Regions from separate parts of the Homo sapiens genome. Here all the other regions are linked to region 2. The links come from fine-mapping of genetic effects on gene expression. A gene starts in region 2. Each other region holds a variant in brackets. All regions are shown on one strand. Distances are from middle to middle. Region 1 overlaps LOC107986023 (a long non-coding RNA gene). Region 2 holds the start of ATP2C1 (ATPase secretory pathway Ca2+ transporting 1). Region 3 overlaps NEK11 (NIMA related kinase 11).

Region 1 (10,125 bases), 39 kb before region 2:
TATATTATCTTTAAAATGAACGGGTGCTTGTTCCTTGTTGCTTTTACGTCGCTTAGTGATTTCATTTGTGCTGGTTTACATGTTTATAGGTACAGGTCAGATCCTGCTTGTGGCTGTTCAGACTTGGCAATCAGAAAGCAAGCAGGCTTGTGAGAATTTATTTAAACTTGGAACATTCAGATCCTGAGATTAAGCGGAGTTCTGTAATGAAGCCACATGCTTTCTTTCTTCTAAAGAGCTACTCTATCAAAGTTAAATTTTGAATTCTTTGATCATTTTCCAATGCCTCAGATACAAAATTTGACACTATTAATATCTCAACAAAGAAAGTATCAGACCCTAGAAGTACACTTGTCTTCTTGTATTTATGGTTATGTTTACATAGCCAGAATTTGCAAAACAAAAAACATTTTATAAACTATAATAACCTTAAACAGATCATTAACAAGCTATAAAGATCATTCAGAAGCAGTTGGTCATTTTTGTGTGTGTAAAAGGTAGGAGGTAGAGCACTGCCATATTCAGTCTTTTTAGCCAATCAAAAGCTATGATTTCCAGCAGGAGACACTATCACTTGGGAATATAAGCATTTTTAAAACTGTTAAAATGTCTGATCACATCTCATTTAAAATCATGCAGTCATTTTTATGGTGTGAGATTTATATCATTCCATTTCTTTGATCTCCAAAAAAGACATTTCTAAAAATGATTTTTATGAATTTTACCAAATTGTTAGAAGAAGTAGCAATATCTGATCCATTTAAATCTAGTGATTCATTTAGGAAGAAGTGTGGCGGTGGTATACAAATGTGAAGGACAAATGTATAGCCATACCAAAGACCCAGCAGTCATAAATTGCTTGTGCATTGTGCTTGTAACTAGAACTGCAAAACTATGCAGGAGATATCACCAGTGTCCTGTATTTTTTTCTCCTTTGTGATATGAGATGACCCACTTAATAAAACACTTCCAGGAAATGCAAGATAGGTTTAGCAGACAGAAAATCCTCTCATGACAGGTTTCCCAAAAAGGCAATGCATAATTTGGAAAATAAAAATCATTGCTACTGTTTGAGAGGAAACTGCTTGTATGCCCTGCTTTAATAATTTTACAAGGGCCAGAAATTCAAACAGACTCTGTTCACTAAGGGAGCTAGGCTGGTCCAGTTTATCTTACTTAGGCAAGGTGTCACCATTAAAAGACCAACTTTTGGTTTCCAAGTTTCAGCCTGCACTTGCTTTTGATGTAGAAAGCTAGAGAACCAAGTGGTAGGGCTGTATAAGTTTTTGTTTGCCAATCTTTTAATGTTCACGGGCTTCTTCAGGCCTCATTTATTATGGAAGGAAGAGAGGTGGCTGAAAGGATGGGAACACAACTGTGGAATGTGAATTGAGTGATTTTTTTTTTCTCAGTATTGTAAGTTTTCAGAGATGTGGCTATATTGCTTGTGTAGTTCTATGGTTCTTTGTTTTTAGTTTATTGAAGAAGTATTACAAAATGCATTCAGAAGACCATTAGAATTTAACATAAAACCTCTGACTTGGACAGGGTGGGTAGTCCCTTCCCCAGTGTACAACCATTTGGGACAACCTAGGAACAGCTGGGAGTGAGTATTATGCTGAGTTCTTAAATTCTTATATAAGTGAATTGAATAATTAAGAGAAATAATATATTTGATTTCTTTTTAAAGCCAACTACAGCTCTGCAGACCTAATGTCTCACAGAATTAGAGAAATTAGGTCAGAGTTCATCATAACTAACCTTGAAAGCTTGTTGGGAAGTTATAAAGGAGGTTAATAATGTCTACAATCTTATGACCTGCATATTTGTTGCCTCTAATCCTTACATTCTTGTATAACTAATCCTTGATATAAAAGTGAAGGGATTGAGACTTAGAGCCCTTAAGAGCCCTTGCCCATGCAGCTAGAAAGTACCAGAGGAAGATGTGAATTTCTATCTCATGGCTTTAAATTTTATTCATTTTACCACGCTTGATCCCTGAACAATCTAGTAATAGCAAAATATCACCCTGCTAACTTTTCTCCTTGAGAGATTTCTAAAATTTCCTATATTCACATAGCACTGTCATAATTTTTACTGTTTACCACATCTGTATGATTAATTCCTCAATATTTTTCTGTATTTGTACTTAAATCACATTATTAGAGTTTATTTAGAAAAAAAGTTCATATCATGACTGTAAATGGAAAACCATTGTCATTAGCCGTAAGTAAAAATAATTAATAAAAGCAAAACAGTATTAAATTCTAGGTAGATACTATTGCCTGTAAAACCTCCAAGCCTGAAACCTGCTCATTTGTTAATAAGGAAGATTAGCTTTTAAGAGAAAGGTTAGAGCATCCTAGGAGCCAACTGAGAAAGTTTCCTGGGTGAGGATGGAAAGGAATTAAAAGGTAGATAATGTTTTTCAATCCAAAATGATTCAGTGTTATTGAATGTAGTGTCTGCATGCCACTTAAAATCTTCTCCCACCTCACTTAGCGCTGCTAAGTACCAACCATGTTGACTTCCACATACTTGGGGAATATTATAACAGAACACCATCTGCTTCTTTACTTTTGCACATTTAAATGAACTCCCCCCTCTAGCCTAGAATTCTCTCCTTTACTTACAACTTGCCCTCCTGGAGGTCTCCTGTACATCCTTCAATACTTGGATTAAATGGGCTCAGTGAAAAGCTTTCTCCAGTGCTGCTGGGAAGAATGAAGTCTTCCTTTTCCAAGATATTTTGTTTGCTTCAGACACAGCCCTTACTACATTCTATGTAGTAAATCATGTGATTTCATGTCGATATTCGTGCACCCATGCACACATGACACTGGATGTTATCTTGTTCTTTGTTCCCTGAGGCATACTGGAGCCTGGCAGATACTGGTGTAAAGGTGACCCACACAACAGGCAGAGGGTACACACTGGATTGACTGTGACACAGACCTCCTTTGTTGTTTTTACTAGGCCTAGAAGTTCCCCATACCCCTTTTCTGTGGTCCAAATTATGATCATTGTTACACTCACCTTGTTCACATATGCTTTATTGTTTAAAACTTCTCCTAGTGCTCTTCTCGCACTTGGTGTCATACAGACAAGAAGATTTGACATGAGGGTTGATTTGTTTGGTAGCTTTTTCTGGTGGTGGTAGTGTTATTCCTGTGATACAGCCATCAATAGGTTGGTAGGTTATTTATCAAATTGAGAACAAATATTTCATCCTTTGCTTCCCTAGATTCTCTTGCAGCAAGTGTTTCACAAAGCCAAATCCCCACATATGTAGAAGATTAACAGCATTAATGAGATGAAGATGCTGAAGGTTGGGAAAATTTGTTAACCTTTCTCTCAGAATTATTCAAATGGTGTGGTAGTAACAGTGGTGGTGGTGAACGTTGGGCAGCCTGAGCCTAAATGGAGTCTCAGATGAGTTTGAGTAGGTGTGCTGAACGCACGCATAAGGGTGTTTGGTTTCGGTTATTTTATTTTGGTCTGAGGGCAACATCCAGCACCTGGCTCAGATGTTGGTGTCTAGTTTATAAGGAATGAGTGAGACTTGCAGGCAATGTTCCCCTAAGTACTAGAGACTCAGCAGCCTGATCTGTGGCTCAGGTGATCAAGCGGGACACTGAGTGTGGAAGGGAGAATTTGCTCCACTTCTGGGCTGACTATAGTCTAGCTTTAGCCTGGAGATGCCTGCCAAGAACCAAATACCTCATGAACCCCTGGGGAGTACTGCTCTTAGGGGCCAGCACCCCTGGGCTACATATGGGTGCTAGCACCAAACAATGAGAAGACAGTTTGTCAGCTCATGTGGGACAGTCTACTCTCTCTCCTTGGGTGAGTTCTTCTATTCCCATGGTTTCAAACACCTATTTGCTGAAAACTCCCAAATGTTTATACCCAGAGCACTTCAGCCTTGCATCCAATCATCTACTTGATATCTCCATCTGAATGTCTTGTGAATGTTGCAGACTGAATGTGTCCAAAGAGAA[T/C]TCCACAAGCTCCAAACATGCTCCTCCCCAGGTTTTTCCATCAATCAACACAAAAGCTCAAACCAGAAACCTGGGAGTCACCTTGGCACCTCTCTTTTTCCCTTTCTCCCCCTTACGTCCCCTTCCTAATCCTTTAGTAAGACTTCTAAAATAGTTATTGAATTCTCCATCTTCACCCTTCTAATCCTGCCAACCATCTTTTCTTACTTGAACTATTGCAATAGTTTTCCAATTCGTGTCTCCATGTTCACTCTGGTTATCCTACAATCTGTGTCTCCTGTAGCAGTCAGAATTTTCTGCTTTAAATGAAAATCTTATTTTAGCTCAATGCGGGGAATATGATATTATTTTGTTTGCTAGTTTAGTCCCAGTGCTAAGCATAAATCTGGCACATAGATGATAAATTAATGTAATTGAATGGAAAAAGGGGACTTTGTAAGTATTAGAGAAGCCGTGGGGTTGGAGGGTTCACGGGGCTGAGGTGTTTTTATGCAGGTGAGGGTAAGAGATGGTGAAAATAGGGTTATTATCCTTAGTAAGCAGAGGCTGTTGAGATCTAGGGGAAATCATGTAGAGGAATTTATTTTACAGACGTGAAACTAGTGTCACAAACTAAGAGATTTGCCCAAGCTCGCATGGCTCATCTGTGTCAGTGCTGGGATTAGAATTTGGTTCGCTTGACTCTCATTCTGTTATGTATAGTGAACCCCTAAGCAGAGATGTAGAAAAAGGCCATATGAGAAAAAAACTCTACAGGATGGGTCCAGAGAATAGGTGATGCCTGAGGGTCAACTTGTCAACTTGTCAATAACAAATAAGACGTTTTGATGAGAGACTGAGGCAGAGCAGAGCCTGCTCTTTTTTGCCTTGTCCCTCAACTTACACTGCCCTTCAGCAGCCTCGCCAGTCTGAATCCCCACTTCTATGTGTCCCTGCAGGAGGAAAGCCGAGAAGGAGTCAGAAAACACAGGCCAGCTAATTTAATCTACAAGAATTTGGGATGACCTGTACCAATGTCTCGCTCTCTTGAACAGAGATTTTTTTTTTCCTGATTGAGAAATACCATTCAAGGGCTGATCTGACAAGTCTTGCCTGTTTAACAGTGAATCTGCTTAAAATGAGGAGAGTGGTCTTTGGGCCCAGGGGGCATGTACTGTAGCTACATTTTAATTACAGAGTAGAATCAAATTTTGTTTTGGAAGCTGTTCTAAAGTTTCCTTTCAATGGCTTAAGAAAATGTTTCTAGTTGGAACGGGATCACTGGAATTTTTTTTCTTTGCTGCTCTGTTTCTTAATGAATGCTAACCTCAAAGTTGCACTGTTAAATAAATATTTGAATTTAATTTGAATTTTAGAAACTTATTTCTGCATTTTGGCTCTCATACTTACTCTGAATGATACTATAAAAATTAAGAACTCCCCATTCCAAAGAAAACTATATTGAGATTTCCAAGGCTAAATAAGGATTTGAGGTTGCTGATGTAGGCTCTGATTCTCTAGGTAAAATGATAGACGTTTCACTACAACTTGATTTAAGAAATGTTTTTAGCTCCATAAAGTCAGTAAGTTGGTTATATCTTGAGTGTATACCAAAGCTATTCATTGTAAAAAGTCTTTTTGAAAAGTCATGAAATGCTATCCATTGTCAGTTCAAATGATATTTGAGGGGAAACTAAAAGTGCTTCTCCATGTCCCCTTAGCCCCATGCTTATGATCTTTCATTGGCTTCCATTTGCTTTTTGGATACAGACAAAGCTCCCTAATGTGGAGGGGTTTGTGTGGTCCAGCTCTGATTCTCTCCCTGCTGCATGTTGACCTTGCCCCCTGTGCTTGTGCTTGAGTAGAAAAAATTTCAGTCCTTCACAAACAGGAGGAAAAGATTTTCCTTGTAGAACTTAATAAATGTTATCTCATTTATACCTAGTGTTCCATTATTGGAACAATAAGCATGTGGGAGTTATTTACATCCTACTGCTCAAGGCCATCGCCAAGGTCTGATTGCAAAAATTCAAAAAATTGTAACTTTGGGCACAAATGGGTTAAGATAGAGGACAGAGAGTCTATGCCACTCCTGTGGAGGAATTTGTATAATTATATATAGGTAACATTGACAGTTAAATTGTGACAACATGAAGTTGAACTTTAATATTTCTGATTATTAAATGTGACATTAAAAGTGGAACTATTTTATTATGGTAATGACAACCTTTTCCTCTATCTGAAGGGAGAAATTTTTTAAATGAGCTATGTATTTACCAAAAAATAAAAAGCTACCAATGGTTTTTCACATTATCTACAAGATGCCTGAGAGTTATCATTGATAGCTTGCATAAAGATAAATGGCTTTCTAGTTGTCAGCAACCACCCTCATGGTCTTTCTCTCTCCCAAATATGTCTTCACTATCTAAGAAAATATCACCATCCTGATATTTAGGCAGAGGCCTAGGTTCATCTTTGGTGCTTTCTGCTCCCTTAGTCAATATTTAATCTATCACCAACTCCATTCAATTCTACCCCTAAAAAACTCCCAAACCGGTTGGTCTACTTCCCTCTTTCACCACCCTAGCCCAAAGACCGTCATTACTTCTTGCCTGAAATACTGTAATACCTTCCTCATTGGTCTCCCAGTAATCCACACTACAGTCAGAGAGGTCTTCTGAACACTACCACCTAGCCCCATGCTTATGATCTTTCACTGGCTTCCATTTGCTTTTTGGATACAGACAAAGCTCCCTAATGTGGAGGGGTTTGTATGGTCCAGCTCTGATTCTCTCCCTGCTGCATGTTGACCTTGCCCCTCTGTGTTAGTTAGGGTTCTCTAAAGGGACAGAACTAGAGGATATTTGCATATATGATGGGGAGTTTATTAGGAGAATTGACTCACATGAGTCACACGATCACAAGGTGAAATCCCACAATAGGCCGTTTGCAAGCTGAGGATCAAGGAAGTCAGTCTGAGTCTCAAAACCTCAAAAGTAGGGAAGCTGACTGTGCAGCCTTCAGTCTGTAGCCAAAGGCCTGAGAGCCCCTGGTAAATCACTGGTGTTAAGTCCAAGAGTCCAAAAGCTGAAGAACTTGGAGTCCGATGTTCCAGTGCAGGAAGCATCCAGCATGGGAGAAAGATGAAGGCCGGAAGACTCAGCCAGTTTCCTCATGCCACTTTCTTCTGCCTGCTTTATTCTAGCTGTGCTGGCAGCTGATTAGATGGCGCCCACCCAGATTGAGGGTGGGTCTGCCTCTCCCTGTCCACTGACTCAAATGTTAATCCCCTTTGGCAATACCCTCATAGACACATCCAGGAACAATACTTTGCATCCTTCAATCCAATCAAGTTGACACTCAATATTAACCATCACACCCCCTGTTCTCTGAACCCTAGCTATAGCACACTTCTTCTATGTATGCAAGTTTCCCTGCTACTTCCTGGCTAGGGCATCTGTTCCAATAATCATCTTTCTATCCTCCCTCAGTTAGTATCTACTCTTCCTTCAGATTTTAATTCAATATTAACTCCTTTAGAGCAGCCTTTTCTGACTTTTCCACCTTGCTTCATTACATCCTTTGAAGGCACTTGGTAACTGTCCTTTGCTGTATTTATCCTAGTAGCAATTTCGCATCTTTCTGTGGGGGCTATTTGATTCCCGATGTATCCCAGGTGACTAGCAAAGTGCCTGACAGATGGAAGGCACTGAATACAAGTTTGTGGAATTAGTGAATGTGGGGAGTAGGGGTGCAATGAATTCTATCTTGAGACTGAAGTACTTGAAATAATCCTGGATGTTAGACTTTGTGAGGAAGATACATGACTGCTTTTGTATATGTGTTTGTGTATGTGTTTTGTAAGAATCTTAGGGCTGTAGTACCAGAATGGCTGAGTGATTAAGGTATTGGACTTAAGAATCATAGGGCTAATTCATGAAGAAAGATAGGTATGCATTTGGGAGGTTCCGGAGGAAATAACCATGACCAATGGGTAGAATTGCAGGGAGGGATTATGATATACTAATAAAGATGAACTTTCTAAAAATGAAAGGTAAAGAAATGAATTATCTTCTGCAGAGTGCGGGGGTATGTGACCCCTCCTTAGGGGATGTTGTGGCAATGGTTTCTGCATCATAAAAGAGAAGACTGAATGACTTATTAGGTTCCAGCTCTGATATTCTAGTATAATAGGCAATAGAGAGATGAACAATTCAGATATTTTAGAAATAAGGAGAGGGCAGAGGGCATAGATGTGTAGTTAGGATTCCCGTTTTATTTGGTTAGTGGTAAATACTCCATAGTCTTAGCATGTTGCTCTAGAGTCTAAGACCAAAGAAGACAGAATCAAATGCCTTTGGTGATTAGAGTAGCATGTAATTCTCCGTCAAGGTAAAAAACAAAAGTTACATCTAGCAAAGACCTCAAGTGAAGAGCTATGTACCTGTGACTAGCTTTTCTAAGCCTAATCGACCACTTAACTACTTCTAATCCATAGTTTGTAAGTTATCTAACCCCTTCCAGTATAACGATAAATAGCTAAATATACATAGCAGTCATTGATAAATGGGGGTGCCAAGAAATTTCAGGTTATTTTGTGGCACTTTAACCACTGTTGTTTTTTCTTCTTCTTCAATCAAGCCTCTTTTACCTTCAGATTTTCTTCAATGCAGTCAGTGCTGGCAACTTGCCGTTTATTATGGTCCCTTCTGAAGGTGTTCCATCCTTCTTGTCCACAGCATCACAGCAGTGAAGTGTCAGACAAGCCTAAGAGACACCTGGACCCTGGGTTGATTTCTGAGCTATTTTTAATCCCTTCATTTACTTTAAAATTTTTCTAACCTACTGTGCTCTGGTGCCTTTGAAACATGGGAGTCAGTAAATGGATGAATATCAAAACTGTTGCTTTGTCTTTGAAATAAGCACATTATTAGAATAAGAAATTGAATTAGAAATCACAACAAATTACAAATTCGAATGACAAATATCACAAGCATCAAAAAAATCTAGAAAATAAGTGTTTTTACCAATTAAAAGTTAACAGATCCATCCTAAAATATTTTGTTCCTACATTGTGGGGGCCACAGGGTCTTTAATCACCTCCTCATAAAGTGATGGTTTTTAAATACTCTGTGAAGAGATAGTAGAAAGATAATTTGGATACTGCCCTAATACAGTTAATGTATGATTATTTTTCATTAAAACAAACATAAAGTGCAAAACCCTTTTCTGTGACAGTGTAGCTTTTTTAAAGATTCCTAAATTTGCTATCCCATTCCATGTTTTAGACAGTTCATCTACACTTCGTTAGCTTTTGTTCAGAATGAAAGATGACATATTTTTGCACCTTGTACAGACAGTCCCATGTCTTGACAGAAAACAAAATGAAAATACCCACATATGTTGTACTGCTCATGATTTGCTGTGAAGAGAGCAGGAAAAATGTTGGAATTATTTCTTTCCTACTCACCCTAAAGGTGGCATATTAGTAAGGCTATTTCAGGAGATACAACTTAGGTTATGCATTCAAGAATAAAATATTTTAAATTTGTATTAAATGCCTTATATGTGTCAGGCACTTGACAAGGTGCTTTACGTATGTTGTAATTTATTTCTCATAATAACCTTGCAAAGTCAGTGGTATTATCCCCATTTTGTGGGTGAGAGAACTGAGGTTTCAAGAGGTAAAGTAACTTGCTACATAGCTCATAAATGATGACTCTGAGATTTTAGCTCCAGGTTTGTCTGTTTGACCTCAAAGCCCAATTCATTCCCTCATACAGAGATACCTCCCATAGATAGGATTCCTTTCTCTCCTTCTTCCCTTCACTCCTTCCTTTCTTACTTTTTCCTTCCTTTTTTCCTTGACCTCAGATTTTCTCTCATTTATGAGGATAAAGGAGTTGAAAATAAAACCATCATAACTATTGTGTTTGGAAGATACCTTAAATCTTTTTTAGAATGAGAAATATAGGTGGAAATACAGGTTTTTGCAAAGTTTAAAGTTTATTCAATTTGGGAGACTTTGTTTAAGAAAAAGAATATAAAATCTGTATCAGGTTTCTCGACATGGTGCGGTGGCTCACGCCTGTATTCCCAACACTTTGAGAGGCTGAGGTGGGTGGATCAGTTGAGGTCAGGAGTT
Region 2 (10,125 bases):
CCCAGCTAATGCTTTTATTTTCTGTAAAGACAGGATCTCACTATGTGGTCAAGCCTGGTCTTGAACTCCTGGGCTCACACAATTTTCCTGCCTCAGCCTCCCAAAATGTTGGGATTACAGGTGTGAGATGCACCAGAAACCCTTAAACTTCTTAAAAATCCCTTAAGTCCTCTTGGTTTTACAGGAAAGTAGGAGCTTGGATTTTAGTTTGATCATAGGAAACAAGTAGATTGTTATTCATTCAACAAAAAATATTTATGATAAACATTTTTCAGGCTATCCATTTATTTAATAGGTCTTTATTACATATTTACTGCTGTCAAATGTTTTGGGGCCAGAGGTGAATTATGCTAGTTTGGAAACTAGGTGGAATATTATCATTTAAATGGATACCTTTGTATCTCAAAACAAATCCTGTAGTTTATATAATTTGGAATATTGTATGTCTGTTTTCCATGGAAATGATGAAGTTCATTGGTCATGGTACTCTTGGGTCATGGGACTCACACTCACTTTGCTCTTACCTCTTTCTTATTTTCACATGCATCCCATCGACACTCATGTCTAATCCAGAAGACTGGTAGTATATAAGATCCCAAATATTACCACTGGCTCAGAATCTGAGCCAATGAATGGAGAGACTATGTCATACTTGAAATAAACTTCTTTAACAATAAAAATTAAGAGTATAAGTTCTCTCATTTCATCTCAGTTTCATCAAATATTTCATGTTTAAAATGCTAGCAAGTGTGAAAGAGGCTATGGAATTTTGTGAGTGATAAAATATTTGTAGAGTACTTGGGGATCTGGATCTGGGTGCTATTAAAACCAACCAAACACAAGTAGCTCATATGAGTCCTTCAATTTTTATTCTTGCTTCCAACTTTTAATCTTCCAGCACTGCCAAAACATGGAACTAGGCAGATTTATAGCAATTCTGGTAGATGTTTGTTAGGAACTGATTTCGTACAACACTCTTGGCAATAAAACTATAGTTTTCTAAACTTGACATTTAGCATGTCCTTTATCTTATAAGAAGAAAAATACTTCTGTTGTTCTGTTGGAGTAGGTTAGCTTATAAAAATAAAGTGATGCATCTTTATATGTTTTTAACGTGTCCAACTTTGCCAGGCATGGTGGTTCATGCCTCTAATCCCAAGCACATTGGTAGGCCGAGGCAAGAGGATCTCTTGAGCCTAGGAGTTCAAGACTGCAGTGTGCTATGATGGCATCATTGCACTCCAGCCTCAGCGACAGAGACTCTGTCTCTTAAGTTAGTAAGTAAATAAATAAAATGTTCAACTTAAAATAAAATTACAATTTCTTTTCTAGCAGCTAGGTGAAATTTCTTAACTATTAACCTCTGGTACTTTAAACAACATTAAAACAGCCTTTAAAAGAAGACATTAATTAATTGAGGAAAGATTTTAAAATAATTTTTTCCAAGTTTTAATTTTTAAATCCCTAAAGAACCACATATTCTTGTACCATCCAGGTTTATAAAAATGCAGCTATCAAATTTGATATTAAAAACAAGATACCGCACACCCTTTGTGGAATAAAGCACAGTATAAAGAAAATTAGAATGTCATGACCATTCTTCTTCAATCTTTCCCATTTGTAATATTTCCCCCAAGCGGAAAAGCCTGACAAATTTCCCTTTCTTGCACGTGACCACTTTTTGCATCAGATGCATTTAATTTTGTAGGTTAAATATTCAGGACAAAAGGAGAGTAGAAAGAATTTTTAGAGCTTTGATTTCTATGGAAGCAATAAGCTGAAACTTGGAAATAATATGTTTCATTGCCATCAATCCCATTGTAGCTAGCTAACACTCCAGGGATTTCCTTGATTCTCTCTATAATAATCTTATACTTCTATAGTGCTTATAATTTGCAACCTGTGTTCACTTACTTTATGAGATTCTTACAAAAATCTTTTGAAAGAAGGCTAGTGTGTATGTATATGTGGGTGTATGAATATACATATATATGTGTATATGTTTGTCTATACATATACATATGTGTGTGTATGACATATATATGTATATAGTCATCCCTCATTGTCCACAGGGGATCGGTTCCAGAACCCCCTCAGACACCAAAATTTCCAGATGCTTAAGTTTTTTATATAAAATGACTAATTGGTCAATTCTTCTTGGTAAAGTTGATCTTGATCTTACCAGTTTCTTTTTTGGCTTAGTAATAGGAACAATGATTTTCATAATTTAGGGGACCAAAAGTAAAATTTCAGTTTAAGTCATTTTAGGAATAAACCATGGAGCTATAAATCTTTTGGAGGAGTTATAGATTCAGTGTTAATGCTAGAGTATTGCAGTATATTAATACAACAGATAGTTCTGAAAAGTTGCTTTAGAAAAATGTTTCAGCTAAAGTGACCCAATACCAAATTCTGTACAGTTACCCTCTATTTTGTAAATGCATATGTTAATATCAAAGTATTTATATTGTGTAATTTCCTACCTTAGGTGCTTTTGTTTTTAATATAATGCTGTTTCAAGGTCGAATATGTACAGTAATAACTGTTACAAATTGATTACGAGAGATCACAATCATTGTACAAATCACAGGCTATGTCATTGTGTAGACAAAAATCACTGACCATGCATGCCAGAGGTGGATCATAAATAGTAACTCCTAAGACTAGAAATCTACTTGATATTTTTATGGGTTCATCTTTAAAAGTGACCTCGCTGAATAAAAGTTCAATATTTCTTAAAAGAAAGGTAAATCTAAAAACCGTCCAGAATTTTCGATCCTAGTCTAGTACCACTTACTTGGGAACAAATATAGAAGCACAGGCAACCCCGTCCGTTAATTTGGCTCCGTCATTGTGCAGACAAAAATCACTGACCATGCATGCCAGAGGTGGATCATAGTTAACTCGTTAAGACTAGAAATCTACTTGATAGTGATTTTTATGGGTTCATCTTTAAAAGTGACCTCGCTGAATAAAAGTTCAATATTTCTTAAAAGAAAGGTAAATCTAGAAAGCTGTCCAGAATTTTCAATCCTAGTCTAGTACCACTTACTTGGGAACAAATATAGAAACACAGGCAACCCCGTCCGTTAATTCTGATGTTGAACGTGTGGTTAGAGAGCACACTGCGATATGTTACAGGACCTGAGATAAAAAGCAAATTTGTAAAGTGTCTAAGTGTTGATGGAGAAAAACACATCTAGCATATACGGAAATTTTCTTTTGAGTTCTCTGTAGGATGATCACCAACTCAGTAGGTGAAGCCCTGCCCTCTAGTGGTTATGGGTGTGAGAGGACTTCTGTTCAACATTATATGTCTGGCTCACCACGGTTTATTAAAACCAATCGTTCATTAAAAAGCACTTATTAGGGGTCTGGGTAAGATGCCGAGCAAGTGAAATGTTTACGTGTGAAAAGGCATTGACACTGGACAAAGGTACAGCTGCTAAAAGAAGTGCTCGTTCATTGGCTTCGACAGCTGTACGACTGGTTTCTAATTGCTGTTCCAGCCTCTCCCCAGTTCCATATACCACAAACGAATGAAAAAGATTAGCTCTCCCTGGAGCTCTCTGAGGCTGAACCTTGCTCTCTCATTACACATGGTAACTAAGCACACCCCTTAAAGAATTTTGGGAAGTCGCCCCGCGATTACCGGCTCCCCCAAGAACCAAGCAGTCAGTGCAGGGTTTTGCAAGTGAGAGTGCGAGACTCGGGAGGCTGCTCACGGTGCTCCAGTCCCTGGCAGGAGCATGGACACCTCGCCCCTTCCTTCCGTGGGCCTCAACGTTGCCTGCTGAGATTGTGACTGCCACCCCGACGGGAGCAGCTTCCCCTACAGACTTTGTAGAGAGCGCTTAAACGCCTCGGGGACAGCGGCCATGACTCTCAGCTTGGGCCGACCCCGCGGCCGCCCCACGGGAATGCGTGGCCGACACGGGGCGTGGGCGAATCTCCGACCCTCGCGTTCAGGGGGTGCATATAAACGGGCGGACACCGTCCCTGGGGTAAGGGAGGCGCCAGCAAGAACAAGGCGGGCCACCAACCCCGAGCGACCTCCTACCGGACGGATCCAAACCCAAACATTGTCCATTCCGGGCCGAAGTCTCGGCCTTCACTTCACTTCCGCCTTCCCAGCCCGTGAACACGAATGCGCCTGCGCGCACCTCTCTCAGCGGAAGTAATAGTGACAAAGCTGGGTTCGCGGCTGGCCCAGGAGTGCGGGGCGCGACTGGGCGGCCGGCGGCGGGGAGGGGCGGAGCGCAGGAGTCGGAGGCGGGAGCAGACCAGCACGGCCTCGCGGAGCCGGCCCGGCGGACCGTGACGGGTCCCCTCACCTCCTCTTCTCTCCCCTCCCCGCCCGCCCTCTCTCCCTCCCTTCCTCCCTCCCGCTCGCTTCTTCTCACGCCGGGAGCAGGCTCCCGCCTCGCACCGCTGCCCCGCGAGCAGCTCCTCTTCTCCCGAGGCGCGCGGGGCGCCCCCGCGAGCCCCGCGGCTGAGACCCCGCAGCCTGGAGGAGGGCTGTCCGGGGCTTTGGGTGGGTACCAGTATTACCTCCTGCCCCCATTTCTAGAAACTTCCAGGTTCTGAAGGAAGGGGAGGTTCGGGTATCCCCTGGATGGGGGGGCATCTCTAGGGCGCCGCCCCGCTGGCGTGAGCTGGGGACGTTGCGGGCACACGACGGGGCGGGTGCGGGATCTTGGGGAGGGGGGCTCCCGAGATAGTGGCTGGGCGGGGAACTCCTTCCTCAGCCTCTCGTCAGCGCCGCTTCTCCTGGTTTCTCTTGCAGATGCTGCTGCTAGGGGTGGTGGGAGCAGCCGTGGGACGCGTGGCCGGGAGCGGGGGTGACAGCCTGGGATTCCGGGGGCTTCTCTTCCTTGTCCTCCTCCTCTCCTCTCTATTCCCAGTGTGGCCGTGGCTGACACTAAAGACTTTGTAGCCATCAACCCGAGTGCAGTTTCGATGGAAAATGAAGGTAAAGGCCCCTGGCCGACCGGTTGCAACGCGGAGTTGAGGGTGTGGTGGTTTGCTTTTAAGTTGTCTTTGTTTTTCCACCTTTTTATTTTCGTGAGCTTATTTATTTACTGTGTATGTGAAGTGTCCAAGGATTTGCTTACTTAGGGTATCCAGCTTTTATTTTGGTAACATGGGGCATTTGAGAGATTGAGGTTCTGTGGGTGACTGAGCTTGATTCAGCTTTCTTGAGGAATTCCTGCTCTCTTCAGCTTAGGGAATGAGAGGGAAGTTTTCATTTCAGATAGCGTCTGTGCATGTTTAAATAGCTATTTGAAAGGAATTACTCGAGGGGAAGTGGAAATGGGGGACAAGGGGATGGGGCTGCATCTCTGTATATTGGCGTTTCAAGCCTCGATGTGGTGTGTGGCAGGATTCATTTATAAGAAAGCAAGCCATGTTTTATTATGTCTAGCATTGGGGAAAAAACTCATTATTTTTCAATTCACAAAAAAAACCCAGTGAATTTAATGAAATGTTATGAGATGAGTGCTTTTCTTAAAGTTCCACCCTATTTCAAAACATCATTTAGGAGGCTGACAGCGGAACCTGTTTGTTCACTGTACACTTTGGACACATTAGATCGTCATTCACATGTTACATGATCCCTTTGGCCTCGTTAAAATATTTAATGCTTTTCCTACACAGCACTGATTATTTTTAAAATTGTTGAACAACTGTGAATAAGTGATTTTTTTTCCCCCTCCTGAAACAACACTTATTCTTTGGACTGACTTCTGACTTGTGCGTGATCATTTTTTTTTCTTCTGCCTTTAACCGGGCTGCAAAATACTATAAAAGATACTTAACAAATGACAGTTTTTTCCTCTGGTATAATTTGTTTTAAAAAATATGTGTCTGGTATAAAGGAGCTGCAGTCTTGCTGGCTGCTTCTAATTTGTTTTTCCATTGTTGAGAATGTAAGCTTGATTGTCTGACTAGGACTAGTAATTTTGAAATGGGTGTTTCTTATAGATGCAGTAATGTGTTTTGCTCTCTGAGACCTCTGGGCTATGTAGGGAATATGATGAGAGGCATGATTATATTGACAAATTTTACTCTGGATGGATAATTGGCGGAAGACATTTTCTGAAATACTAAAGTGTATAACTGCAGAGGAGTTATACTGTCTAATTGGGTCTTGAGAAACATTTGAAAGCAGTGATGTTTTTGGTGATAAGGAAAGTCACTTTTCTGAGCCTTTTTCCTCTCTTTTAAGTTTATTGATTTAAGAAAGGCAAATCCATTCTGCACATGAGACAAAGAATGTTAAATGCATTCATATACTTGTTTCTTGGTAGAAACATCTTAAATAACTTCTAACATTTAATGTATGTTTATGAGCTTGTTTTCAGAATGGTACCAGATTTAAGAGGGTAGCCTAAAGTAGGTGGATTCTTTCATGTTGCTTTTGTTTCTTGATCTCTCAGGAGGAAGAGCATGAGTAATAAAGCCGATTCTCATTATCTACTGAGGTGGGAGGGGGTGGTTGTGAGATAGGAGAATGGTGCCTACTTGTGTCTGTCTCTGTATTTTGTGGCCAAATATGAATTTTGTGGTTTCATAGTAAAAGATTATACAGTTCTTAAAAACGTGTGGGGTTTTCTGTCCCGTTATTCTTGACCATCAAGAGACCATTTTTGTCAGTTTCTCCCTATCGTCACATTTTTTTTTATATATAAACAGTTTGAAGAAGAGCCTGTATATAGCCTAGAAATTTTCAAAAGTGACTGACCATATTAAACTACATAGATTGATACCTGTGCCTTTTTATTGTTCACTTGCCTTTTTGTAGTTTTCATCCTTCTTTGATATAGTGTAGTATTAACAATTTGGAGGTGTGAAACAAAAATGGATTCAAGTCTTGACTAACTTGTCTTGAACCACTTAAAGCTGTGTGATTTTAAGTAAATTACGTCACCTTTCTGAGCCTGTATTTCTTCATCTATAAATTGGGATTGATAATCTTTAACTCACAGAATTGAGAGGATTAAATGAGAAACCCTGTATAAATTCTCTTGTGAGGTAGGAATGATAACGTTTAAGAGCTTGAGTTGTGGTGGAACCATGCAGACTGATTTGAATGCTGGATTCGTCGCTTACCATTTGGCTTTGTGCATATTAAAGTTTTCTGTGCTTCCGTTTCTTCATAAAATAAAGATAATGATAGAACCTACCTTATGAGGTTGTTGTAAACATTCAAACAGTATCTGGCACATAGTAAGTGCTCGGTAAATGTTAATTATAAATTGCCTAGCTGAATGTTTGATACATACTAATAGGCCACCTGGCATTAATATTGTCATGACAGTTAAATGTTGGAAGGGGGAACAGTAGTAGCCAAATGCTCAAAATGAAGTTGTCATTGTTAGTTGAGGGATAAGTGGAGTTAGGTAAGGAATTTTCTATGGCATTAGTGCTTTTAAGCCTACAGAAAAAGTTAGGGCTCTACCAAGAAGCCAGGGTCCAGTACAGAAAGAGACAGGTTTGGATTTGAAGCCCGACAAGTAATGTTTTCCTCTCCTGAAAAATCTGACAAGTTACTAGGCTTCTAAGCTTTCTCAGCCTCTAAGTTATCTCATCTGTAAATGAGATAATGCCCTCTTGCAAAGTTGATGTGAGTAATAAATGAAGCCGCCAGAGCAATGTTTGACATACAGTTAACTTGGATGAATTGAGTGATGCTGCTGTTCCCTAGTAAGAGTATCCTCCAGTAGGTATGCAGGTAGTTACATTTGTGGGTGTGAACAGTGTAGAATTGATAGTGTTTCCCTAGAGCATCAGCATGAAGGTTTCTTAGGTAGCTTACAGTGGTGTGGGGAGGAAATGGTTTCATCCATGTGTTGGTTCCTTCAGCAATGGTGGTATTTTCTTTGGCACTTCGGTTTAGATTCTTCTGGACTTTTTTCCTAGGGCCCATTTAAACTTTCTCAGCAAAGCTTGACCAATTTTTAGCTGTAGACTCCAGGATGTTTCATGAACACTTTCTGCTTGTCACTAGGAACGTTTAAAATGTTAATTTCCTGGAATTTTTGGACTACTTAACATTCAGTCGTGAGTTAGGATTTTATCCAGATCCTTTGGAATTTGTTTTTACATGTTTATCACAAATCTAAACAGATCCCGCTTAGGCATCTTGAGATGCACAAGTAAACAGCTCTTACCTGATTTTTAAAAGTTAATTGCATGTTTAAAGTGATAGCTTACTAGAAAAGATATGTCTAGCTGGAGAAGCTTGCACATAGGTTTTCCTTTCTAGTAATGGATTTATTTTTTGGAATAAATTTGGCCTTTCCCATAGAAAATTCAGTGTGACTTTAATACACATGAAACTTTAATATAGCCTTAAATGTTTGACTAGTGGATAGAAATGTAATAGTCTTCAGGATTTCAGGACATGGTTAATTTAAGATTATAGACAGAGCTAATAGGTGTAGAGAACAATGCCCCAATCTTTTTTGTTTGAAAATGGTTGTATTTACACTTTACTTTTAAAAGCAGTTTCTTAATTCAATTTCAAATTGTTAATCAGCTAGGAATGTCTCAAGAAAAAATTGCATTACTATAGTTGGAGAAGCTATAGGGAAAAAGGGATGAGAAGCCACCTTAATTTTATTCCTTTAACTGAAAATAGGAAACCAGGTTATAAAAATATATCTTTGGGTGTGGGAAATATAGTTTATGTTGTTTGCAGTTTTGTCCATAAAATGATAGTCTTAATTAGTACTCTGAAAAAGAGTTGAAACTAAAAGAGATTATATATATGACATTTTGTAAACTGTAGTAATTTAAGCCAGAGGATGCTGTAGAGAGTACTTGTATGCAATAACCTTCTGACAGTTGGATTCCAAATACTTGATTTGTCTTCATATTTTTGTCATTCATTTAAAGTCAGCAGAATTCAGGTCTGTTAACGCAAAGCATTATGAAACAAAATAGTTTCCTAGGGAACACACCCCTAGGGGCCCAGGACTGATTTTGGAGATCTTAGTTAGCCATGATCTGTTTTGCAAGGTTAAATTTTGTTTTAAAGGTGCCAGGAACACTGTGGCTTGATGGTAAAGTTAGCATGAATTTTAAATTACACCGTTGTTACATGTAGCATCTTAAAATATCTTAAGGATCAGTTCAAGAGGTCCCCTCACATTTACTTTGTTGAAACAAATTCTTTTTAATAATGGTTTCAGGCATCAGTTGTGACAAGGTTATCTTTATGCTTTTCATGTAGACAAATGTTGGTAAAAGGCAGTAAAGGGTGCATCCTGAGGTTAATGCCATCATTTCATGAAAGAAAGGATCTCTCAAAAAAAAGGCTAAATTGATAATTTCCTCTTGGATGTATATGACTGCTACTTATATGCATTTGTTAATACAGTTGACCCTTGAACAATGTGGGGGTTGGGGTGCTGACCCACCATGCAGTTGAAAATCTGCATGTAACTTTTAACTCTCTGAAAACTAAACTACTAATAGTCTCTACTGTTGCCTGGAAGCCTCACTGATAACATAAACAGTCAATTAACACATACTTTGTATGCTATATGTATTATATACTGTATTCTTGCAATAAAGTAGAGAAAAAAACTTACCAAGAAAATTATGAGGAGGAGAAAATATATTTATAATTCATTAAGCAGAAGTGGATCACTATAAAGGTCTTCATCCTCATTGTCTTCGCTTTGAGTAGGCTGAAGAAAAGGAGGGGTTGGTCTTGCTGTCTCGGGTGACAGAAGCAAATCTGAGTATAAGTAGACCTTTACAGTTGAAACTCATGTTGTTAAAGAGTCAACTGTGTATCTTCTGTCTTCAGGCTTTAAGTTGCTACGACAAAAGTATAAATCGTAGAATTACAAATAAATTACACCAATTGTGTTAAATTAGGTTGGTTTAGACTAAACCTGTGATGTGTTTAGAAAAAGTTTGAATGAAATGTTGAAAAGCTGTCCTAGATTATAGACAGAAGACAGTAATAGTCGGGGTCAGAAGCATTATCTTAAGATGGCCGTAACTGGGTGTCTGATTCAATTTCTATCTCTGCTTTTTTTAATTCTGCTATAGGTATTAGAGAATGTGTGAATTGGAATTATTTAATATACCTGTTAGTTGTAATTGCTT
Region 3 (10,125 bases), 330 kb after region 2:
GTTTTGTTTTCATCTAAATTGTGCTTACCTTATACAAAATGGAGCTTCTGGGGGAAATTGAGGCAACTCAGCACAATGCCTATGTCTGTGTGTCTTCTCAAAGTATTGACTTTTACCTTATGTAAAAGGTAAAAAAAAATCTTATGGTTTTGGGGACGTTGTAGCATATTAATCATAGGTTTCCTATACATATGAGAAAATAATATTTTTATTTTTAATGTTTTTATTAAAAATGAATTTGAGCAGTTTTTCACACCCACAAATGTTATTTTTGGGAAATTAAGAAATGCTTTGATGGCTGTCATGTTAATACAAATAATAACTGTAATCATTCTAAGCACTGCCACTCCCAATTTGTAATGAATGAACATGGTCTTCATAGAGGCCACATTGAGATACAAGAATAAATCAGTTTGTTCTTATTAGAGCCTTATAATAGCCTTGTTCAGTATTTTCTGGCTTGGTGTAATAAAGCCATTACCCTCTTCAGAAAACTAGAAAAGAAAGGACAAATAGAGATGGACATCTTTTGGTAGCTGCCTTCTGCTGAGGGCTCCCACCACCCACCCTCTGTCTGCCCCATGACAGCCAGCTCCGCAAACTTTAATGCTGAACTATGATTAGATATGCAGAGAGAGGCAGGGTGTCCGGGGCAGACTCTAGGGCACCTGGAGAAAGCTCCAGCCTAACAGCATTTGCTGTCACACTCTGGGTCCTCTTGACTGAGTTCTGGGACTTGACTGAGTGGGCCTGCAGGATGTAACTGGAAGTTTTAGTACGATGAAGACATTTTTTGCAGTTCGAAGGTATGACTACATCTGAGATATAAGTTCAAAGTATGTGAAAAAGAGGAAAGGGGTGGGGGAGTCTTAGGAAAAACATCTGTATCTCCTTCCTCTCCTCAGCTTCCCCTCTCCACGTTACTCTCCCAAAGGATTAGTTAATTCTTTGTATATGATATTATGTGGCAATTTGAAAGTCCTTATCTCTTAGAGATTTATGTACTCATTTATTCAGCAAGAAGTTTTGGGTGTCTGCTTTGAATCATGTGTTGGGGATACCATGGTAAGCAGGATGGGTGTGGCCTCTGCCCTCCTGGAGCTTACCATCTACCTGGAATATTAGAAGGGATTTTTATTTCAGCAGACATAAAGTGCCAGTCATTGTGCTGAATTAGTGGTTCTCAAACTTAAGGGTGCATCAGGATCACCTGGAGAGCTTGTCAAACCACACATTGCTGGACCTTCATCCCAGTTTCTGATTCAGTAGGTTGGAGGTATAGGCAAATTTGGAAATTTTTATTTTTAATAAGAGCCCAGGTGATGTTGTTCTTGCTATTCTGGGGACCACCCTTTAAGAACCATTCTGGGAAGCCTGTCACATGGATTTGCTTAAGGCATTCTAATGGTTAAAACCATCTGGGATGGTGGTGGGCCCACAGGCTGAGATCTTCTAAATGTCTAAAAGGAACTAAGTTCCTTTAGAGGAAACTTGGTTTTCTCTTCAGGCAAAGTTCCTGTTTTATGAAAACACTCTTTTTTAAAAAAATTGTTAATGTATATCTGGATCGTTTTAGCAGTTTAAAGAGCTAATGCAGTAGATGAAGTGACAGGGAGTTTTTCATTTAACAGTTGCATCTGTATGTCATTTTCTCCTCGAAGGTTCTATAAGATAGAGCAATAGTTCTCAAAGTGTGTTTCCAGACGAGTGGCATAGTTAGAAATGCAGAATCTCAAGCCCCATTCCAGACCTACTGAATCAGAAACACTGGGTGTGGGAGCAAGAATCTGTTTTAACAAGGCTTCCAGCTGATTCTGAGGCACACTCAAGTTTGACACATCTGAGATAGATGGTAGTGAGAACTAGGCTCAGGCTGAATCTGATTCTCCCAGCTCCCTTAAGACGGTTTACCAGGATGACTAAGCTTCAGTTTTTCTATCTCGTAAGTCAAAAGTCTATCCCTTGTTGTCTAATATCTTTCAGAGCTACAAGAAAGATAATCATGACCTTTCTGAAATGGTTTTACTAGCAAAGATGAAAATTTCTAACTAACCATAAATAGACTTATTCAGTGAAAGAAAGGGGATTCAGATGCAGCAGTGTGACCTTCGGTTGGTCATTAGCTTGTCTGAACCTTACTTTTCCTATCTGAAAAGTGGGCAGAAAAATGTCATTCTAGTCTACATTGAAGAGTTGTTGCAAAGATCAAATGGTATCTTTGTGCTATTAAATGGTATCAAATTTTTGTGGTATCAAATGTATATCAGCATGCTTTTTAAACTGTAAAATGCACACAAATATAAAGATTATAACTTTGGGCTGCTCACCCTTAGCTTTGTTCTTTTCTATCAACAAAATGGGAGTAGTTGAATTACTTATACCTCTATGGAGATTTTAAGTAATTTAGACAACTAATAGCACAGTAACTCGAGCTCTTCTAAGGTAAAGTTTTTCTTACGTTTATGTTTTGTCTTTAACATACAAAGGTTGAAATATGTAGAAATAGTATAAAATCTTTTAGATTTTATTATAGTGTATACTCTTATTTGAACTAGTCACATTCTAGAGCAGTGATTCTGAGAGGGCAGCCTCCAAACCAGCAGCATCAGCATCAGCTGGGAACTTGTGAGTAATGCAGATTCTCAGGTACCACACCAGACCTGCTGAATCAGCAAGTCTTGGGGTGGGACCCAGAGATCCGTTTTAACAAGCCCACAGGTGATCCTGATGCTCACACAAGTCTTAGAGAAAGGCATTTATTTGGGTCTTAATTGAAGGATCTGATAAAGGCCATCATTTTCCTGGAACAGGGTGATGTCTTCGTTTTTCCAGCATGGATTTGAAACATCTGTGTCCAAACTCGTGCAGCCATTATTGGATTCCTTCATAAACACATTCTGTTACTGCTTGCCTGGCATACAGAAGATCTGGAATGCCACTCCAGTATACCCATTATGAGGCTGACTTCAGGGTGCAAGGAAATTAAAGCTGTTTATCAGACTCTTTTCCCCTTAGTGACAGGAGAAAGGAATCTTAAGCTAAGAAGGCTTCAAGTTGGGTCTATGTATGAAAAACATGAGGCGTGACAAACACAGTTTGAACGGACTTACGTTTTTTTTGACTTTTCCCTTTGAAAATGAAAATGAGTCCTTTTGTGGGCAGCACCAAATTAGTGGTGCTTACTTAAGAAATACTGGAGACAGATTCATTCCAGTTTGTTTCATAACTTAGGTGGCAGAATGGCACTTTTCCCTGGCCACTTCTTTCCTTCTTCCCCTTCTAGGAGGAAATCTTAGGTAGGAGAGGGAAAGGGACTAAGGCTGTCTGTACACAATGAGCTACGTTTTGGGAAGAGGAGCTTAGTGTTTTAACAAAAGAAAGGTTTGTCTGTGTTGTAGAGATATGACTTGGTCCACTGCCTATGTTTGTAAATAAAGTTTTATTGGGACATAGCCACACTCATTTATTTATGTATTGTCTGTTTTCACACTACAAAGGCAGAGTTGGGTAGTTGTGACAGAGACCACGTAATCTGCAAAGCCTAAAATTGTTTTACTATCTAGCCCTTTACAGAACATATTTGTCAACCCCCCTTGCAGAGGTTTCTTCTGAGCTGCTTGAAGGAAACCTTGACGGAATCAGTGGACAGGAAGGACAGTGGGAGGTGAACAGTGTGGTGAAATGCCTG[C/T]GGGTTCCTGTGGAGTCCACAGAAAGGAAACCACAGAGAGGCGAGATTCCATATTGCCCATTTCAGTTGGGTTCAGTATGGATTTTGAGAAATTATTCTATTTAAAATAAATAAATATTTTAAACTTGAGTATATATTTGCAATTGTCTAATACAGTCATACACTGCATAACAATCTTTTGGTCAATGACAGACTGCATGTACAATGGTGGTCCAGTTAATGAAGCTGAAAAATTCCCAACACCTAGTGCTATCATAGCCATCATAACATTGCAGAGCAACATAGCCACTCACATACTTGTGGTGATGCTGGGTAAATAAACCTACTACACTGCCAGTCATATAAAAGTGTAATGCATATATTTATGTACAGTATAGTGATGACAAATGACTGTTACTGCTTTATGTATTTACTATACTTTTTTTTTTTGAGGTGTGGTCTCACTCTGTTACCCAGTCTGGAGTGCAGTGGCACGATCTCGGCTCACTGCATCCTCCACCTTCCAGGCTCAAGTGATCCTCCCACTTCAGCCTCCCAGTTAGCCGGGACCACAGGTGTGCGCCACCACACCCAGCTAATTTTTTGTATTTTTGGTAAAGATTGGGTTTCTCCATGTTGCCCAGGCTGTTCTCGAACTCCTGACCTCTGGTGATCTGCCTGCCTCGGCCTGCCAAAGTGCTGGGATTATAGGAGTGAGCCACCATGCCTGGCTTGCTATACTTTTTATCATTTTTCTAAAGTGTACTCCTTCTACTTATTAAAAAAAATTAACTGTAAAACAGCCTTGGGCAGGTCCTTCGGGAGGTATTTCAGAAGAAGGCACTGTTATCACAGTAGATGGAGGCTCCGTGTGTGTTACTGCCCCTAGAGACCTTGTAGTGGGACAAGATGTGGAGGTGGAAGACAGTGGTATCAGTGATCCTGACGCTGTGTAGCAGTAGACTAATGTGTATGTTTGTGTCTTCATTTTTAACAAAATAGTTGAAAAAGAAAAAGAAAGAAAAAATGCTTATTGACTATCTCCTAGTTAGGAGAGATATGAAAAAAAGAAAATATTTTCGTACAGCTGTACAATGTGTTTGTGTTTTAAGCTAAGTGTTATTACAATAGAGTCAAGAAGTTTAAAAAATGTACAGTAAGCTGCTTAATTTATTATTGAAGAAGGGAAAACATTTTTTATAAATGTAGTGTAGCCTAAGTGTCCAGTGTTTATAAGTCTGTAGTAGCGTACAGTAATGTTCTAGGCCTTCGCATTCACTCACCACTCACTCACTGACTCACCCAGAGCAACTTCCAGTCCTGCGTGCTCCATTCATGGTAACAGCCCTGTACAGATGTGCCATTTAAAAAATCTTTTATACTGTATTTTTACTGTACATTTTTAATGTTAAGATACACAAGTACTTACCACTGTATTACAATTGTCTACAGTATTCAGTGTAGTAACATGCTGTACAGGGTTGTAGCCTAGGAGCAATAGGCTATACCACATAAACATAGATGTGTAGTAGGTTATACCATCGAGGTTTGTAATAAGTACACTCTATGATGTTCACACAATGATGAAATCACCTGAATGACATATTCCTCAGAACATATCCTCGTTGTTAAGTGATGCATGACTTATTTCTTCCTGGTGTTGGGTATTACAGGAAAAACTACTGAGTGTTTGCCTTATTTGATACATACTTTGCATCCATTATACTATGTAATGTTCACAACAATTCCATGAGATGAATATTATCATCTTTATTTTATAGATGAGAAAACTGAAGTGCAGAAAGCTTAAATAACACAGTGTTACAGAGCTATTGCTAGAGGCTTGATTTAAATGCAGATTTTGTTTTTATGCCAAAGCCAGCATTCTAAAGGAGTGTTTCTGAATGTTGGCCTCTCTAGCTAGGTTGGGGTGTTTTTCAAACTGCAGGTTGAGAGGTCAGTTTAGTGAGTTGCAACCAGCATTAAAAAAATAATTGAACAGGATGAAAAACACCAGAGTGTGTCATATGTAGTTTGGGTAAATAGGTCTTGGTGTATGAAACTTTTGTTTCGACTATAAAGATATTTATAAACATACATATATAAGCACATTTCTGTGCACTGGGCAACAATGTAAATGATATTTCTTACCATGTCGTAGTTTGAAAGCCAAGGGAGTGGACAAGGAGGAATGAAGATAAAGAAAAAATGGGAGAGCAAGAGGGAAAAATATGAATGAGTGAGAGAATGAATAACTGTCAAAGGGACAAAGAGACTCGAGAGGGAGAGGAAGTAGAAAAGAGTGGGGAAAGAGGGAGAATGGACAACTCAGAGAAAGAGACACAGAGATTCAGGGAGAGTTGAGGGTGGGCAAGAGAAGGAAGACATCATATGGTTCTGTCTTTCATTCCACTCAGCAAGCACATGTCCCTACTTGATGGCAGAACTGGAGATCTCTCAGGAGATTTTAGTTTTCATACACTTCTCATGCTGTGATTCTCTTGTCGTTCTCAGTGTAAGTAAAATGAAGATCTTTATTAACATGGCTTCTAGTCATTACAGCAAAAAGACACCTGCACGTTTATGTTTATCACAACACAATTCACAATTGCAAGGATATGGAACCAACATAACTGCCCATCACTGATGAGTGGATAAAGAAAATGTGGCATATATACACCATGCAATACTACTCAGCCATTAAAAAAAGAATGAAATACTGTCTTTTGCAGCAACCTGGATGGAGCTGGAGGCCATTATTCTAAGTGAAGTAACTCAGGAATGGAAAACCAAATACCATATGTTCTCACTTATAAGTGGGAGCTAAGCTATGGGTACACAGAGGCATGCAGAGTGGGATAATGGACTTTGGAGACTCAGAAGGGAGGAGGGTGGGAGGGAGGTAAGGGATAAAAGACTACATATTGGGTACAGTGTATACTACTCGGTGAGGGTGCACTAAAATCTCAGACTTCACCACTACAAAAGTCACCCATGTAACCAAAAACCACTTGTATGCAAAAGGTATTGAAGTTCTATATGCATGTACATATGTGTATAGGTATGTTATATATATATGTGTACATACAGACACGTGCAGGTGTCTTCTTGATATAATGACTAGAAGCCACGTTTAATAAAAATAATATATATTATTTCAATATAAATAATAAAAATAATAAAAACTATGGCTTCTCCATAACAGTATTCTATCTCATCTGTTGCTCAGCTGAAAATCAGTGATCTGAACTGATGTGAAAAAAAAAAATACGCTGTGTTGAAATTGCTGAGAGAAGGTATGAGATCCCTAGTACACTGCTTTCTAAGGAACTGGCAAAGGCAATTTTGAATATATGTAATTTTTGTCTTTTGAGCTGACTAATTTTTATTCTACTGTACAGCAGCCTTTTATGTTTTAGTGGGAAACCATAGATAACAAACACATTTTAACATCTTCTATTTCCAGGGAATTCTACATCCATTAAGTATCTTACTTTCAAAGGATTCTGGACTCATTTAATGAAAAGCCCATTTGTACAGACTTGGAAATTGAGTGAACATTTGTATGAAACTTCCCTGCATACCGATGCTTTCATGAGAATTCTATTACTCAATCTCAGCAGCCACTCTACTAGATTACACTTATGTTAATTTTATCACAGAAATTGGAGCTCTGTGAGTTTAAGTCTCTTGCACAAATTTTCATCTAAAAAGTGGAAGAGCTAGATTCTAGCCTTGATTTTCTGACCCCAAATTTCATATTTTTCCCACTAGACCAGAAATAGCAACAATAGATTGAAAAATAATGTGTTACAATTTGGAAGAAAAATTTTAATTTTAAGTCTGAGTATGGTGCAAAGTCTAAAATGCCCATTGTTTTGCTGCAGCTGAGTATTCTAATTTTCTCCTCCCCCAGCCCAAGGGTAGTTGTTTGGGTAGTTCTTTATTTCTAGCCCCCCATTAGTAAATTATATTGTTATGCTTTCTTGTGATCCATTCATGGCCTTTCTTCACTGAAGATTGTTATAAACACCAACTTTATTCTAGTTACTAACAATGTTGCATCAAGTAACTTGGGTAGATGCTTATTGTCATCAGCTTAGGTGGGTATTCTTTTTTAAAATAAGTGCTGAATGTAAGGTTGAGTAAGTAGGACCCACCAGAGTGAACTCCATCTCAAAAGCCATCATTACCTGTTAGAAAAGAATTGTGTTTTTCCCAGCTTGCCAAAATGATGCTGCTATATATCCTATTCATCTTGTTTGGTCCTACCAGTAACATTTAAAAAAAAAGAAATATCTAGGAAAAATGCTGTGGTAGTTTTGCTCCAACTTCCTATGCTAAAAACTTTATGTGTGTTGTGTAATAGGACCCTTCAGCCAGGACATCTTGTCCTACCTTTGCCCCTAAATTTCCTCATTTTTAATAAGGATTCATGCCTCCAAATGTCAAAATGTTAAAGCATATTATTTATTCTTATTTAATGATTTTTTTCTTACCTTCAAACGGTAGTTGCTAATGGAAATGTTCCTCCTTTCCTCTACTGGTTTTATTTTGCTGAGTGTTTATTACATTCAACCAAATACTTCCAGGAAGCTGAGATTCAGCTCTACACTCCATGGAAGCTTTGTCAACGCAAGCAAAATATACATCCCTGTGAAAAGATACAGTATTCTTACCTCATTATAATTTTAATAACTGGTAGTATCTGACTGTTTGTTCATTATTTCAGAGATCCCAGAAGACCCACTTGTGGCTGAAGAGTACTACGCTGATGCATTTGATTCCTATTGTGAAGAGAGTGATGAGGAGGAAGAAGAAATAGCGTTAGAAAGACCAGAGAAAGAAATCAGGAATGAGGGATCCCAGCCTGCTTACAGAACAAACCAACAGGTATGTAATGCTCCCTGTCGGAAGCCATGGAACTGTTCAAGGTACTGATTGGACTCTCCCAGAGAAGAAAGGAAGTCTTATAAGGTGAAGTTGGGGACATGGGGAACAGGGTTATTATAATAGCTACTTGTGGTAAGTCTGGCTTTTCAAGGTCCAGAGGCAGGCAGGGCCCTATGGAATTTGGAGAATCTGATCTGGACCATGTTGATGGGGGAAGAACTGGAGCATGCTGCACTTATTTGGGGGGTTGGGAGATGGCACACACCATATTCCCACTGAGGAGGGCTTCGTATACAGCTATTGAATTAAAAAATGCAAATATCTCTTTAGCAGAGAGAATGGCACTTTTTATATACTTTTCTGTCTGGTAATCATATTTTGGGGTCATATTCACAAATTGAATGCAAATAAAATTTGTAAAGACTGACTTAGTTTTGGGGATCAGAACCAAAGATCCTGGGCTTAGGGGATAATCTGTCTAGCTACTTTTAGCCTCTGAGGACACATTCTTGCTTAAGTGGTGAAGTCTCTGAGTATATGCCCTATGCCCTTGTAGTAGATCTCTTTTAACTATAGCAAGATTAAGCCTTATATGGGCCATAGGTCAAGAAACACCCCTGACATGTGCTTTCAGTGTTGAGTGTCTGCAACAGAGGAATAAAAAGCAAGAGGCTTATGAAGATGAAGGGGAAAGCTTTGGGCAATGTGCATACATACCTTCTTTTCTTCTTACCTTCCAATCCTAAACTTCCATGAGTTACAGAAGCTTTTGTTAACTGAGAACCATGCAGCTACTAAAATAAAAGTCTACCAAAGGGCACCTGAGTGAAGACTCAGCTAGAGGAGATGATTTTTGGAGTGAAGATGATTCACTCCAAAAATCCATTCAACCATTTTTAATAAAGACTATGCAATATATCATAATATTCAATCCATTCAGCCACTTAAATCCATTCAACCATTTTAATAAAGATTATGTGTCATAATATTCAATAAATAAAAGCAGTAAGAAGTGCTCTCCAATTTGATATTAAGAGAGAGAGGCAAGTGAAGGGTACAGGTATGGGGCCAAGCAAAAAAAGGGATGAGATAAAGAGGAGAAAGAGATGAAGAGAAAGGATTAGAGAGAGATAATTTAGGAGACAAATACATGAAGAGAGAAACAAATACATTTGGAGAAAAATACAGCTAAAGGGGGGATTCAGAATGCCAAAATAAAAACTTAGCTTATACCGTTTCCCCATTTTTTTCCAACGGAATCTGGAAAACAACAGCACCTCCTACCACAAATCGAAAATATAATTTCTACTACCTTCTGAGCCACTGTCATAAACAACTGTAACGGATATTATTGCAGCATTACAGAGCCTTCATTCTGGGCCTATGGTTGCAAAACACATGATATGCAAAATACATACAGTGCTCAATTTTTGGTCAAAGCATCAAGCGGTAAAATTTTAGCTACTAATATTCACTTAGAAATGTTTTTTAAGAAAATAAAACAGATTTAGAACCACATGAATAAAATACTATATGGCAAACAGCTCCTAGGTCAGGAAATACAA

The links. PIP is the estimated chance that this variant, and not a neighbour inherited with it, causes the effect.
Region 1: its variant is the best candidate, but not a certain one, in a credible set for the expression of ATP2C1 in whole blood (INTERVAL, PIP 0.58).
Region 3: its variant is the best candidate, but not a certain one, in a credible set for the expression of ATP2C1 in lung (TOPMed, PIP 0.63).

Annotation. Positions count from the first base shown.
Region 1 is chr3:130,850,942-130,861,066 of GRCh38, forward strand. All of the region lies in intron 1 of LOC107986023 (a long non-coding RNA gene), which reads right to left. It also overlaps a transcript of ATP2C1 not described here. Among named protein-coding and RNA genes, the nearest start is that of ATP2C1, 38 kb to the right of the region's middle. The variant T/C (reference allele first, on the strand shown) is at 4,002.
Region 2 is chr3:130,889,804-130,899,928 of GRCh38, forward strand. ATP2C1 (ATPase secretory pathway Ca2+ transporting 1) reads left to right here and starts at 4,281. Exons shown (of 28, transcript NM_001378687.1): 1 at 4,281-4,534; 2 at 4,787-4,972. The coding sequence starts at 4,967. LOC107986023 (a long non-coding RNA gene) reads right to left here and starts at 4,118. Exons shown (of 3, transcript XR_001740492.2): 1 at 3,053-4,118. RefSeq lists an enhancer at 3,836-4,055 and a silencer at 4,146-4,535.
Region 3 is chr3:131,220,129-131,230,253 of GRCh38, forward strand. It overlaps NEK11 (NIMA related kinase 11), which reads left to right. Exons shown (of 18, transcript NM_024800.5): 15 at 8,400-8,560. Among named protein-coding and RNA genes, the nearest start is that of NUDT16-DT, 160 kb to the right of the region's middle. The variant C/T (reference allele first, on the strand shown) is at 3,689.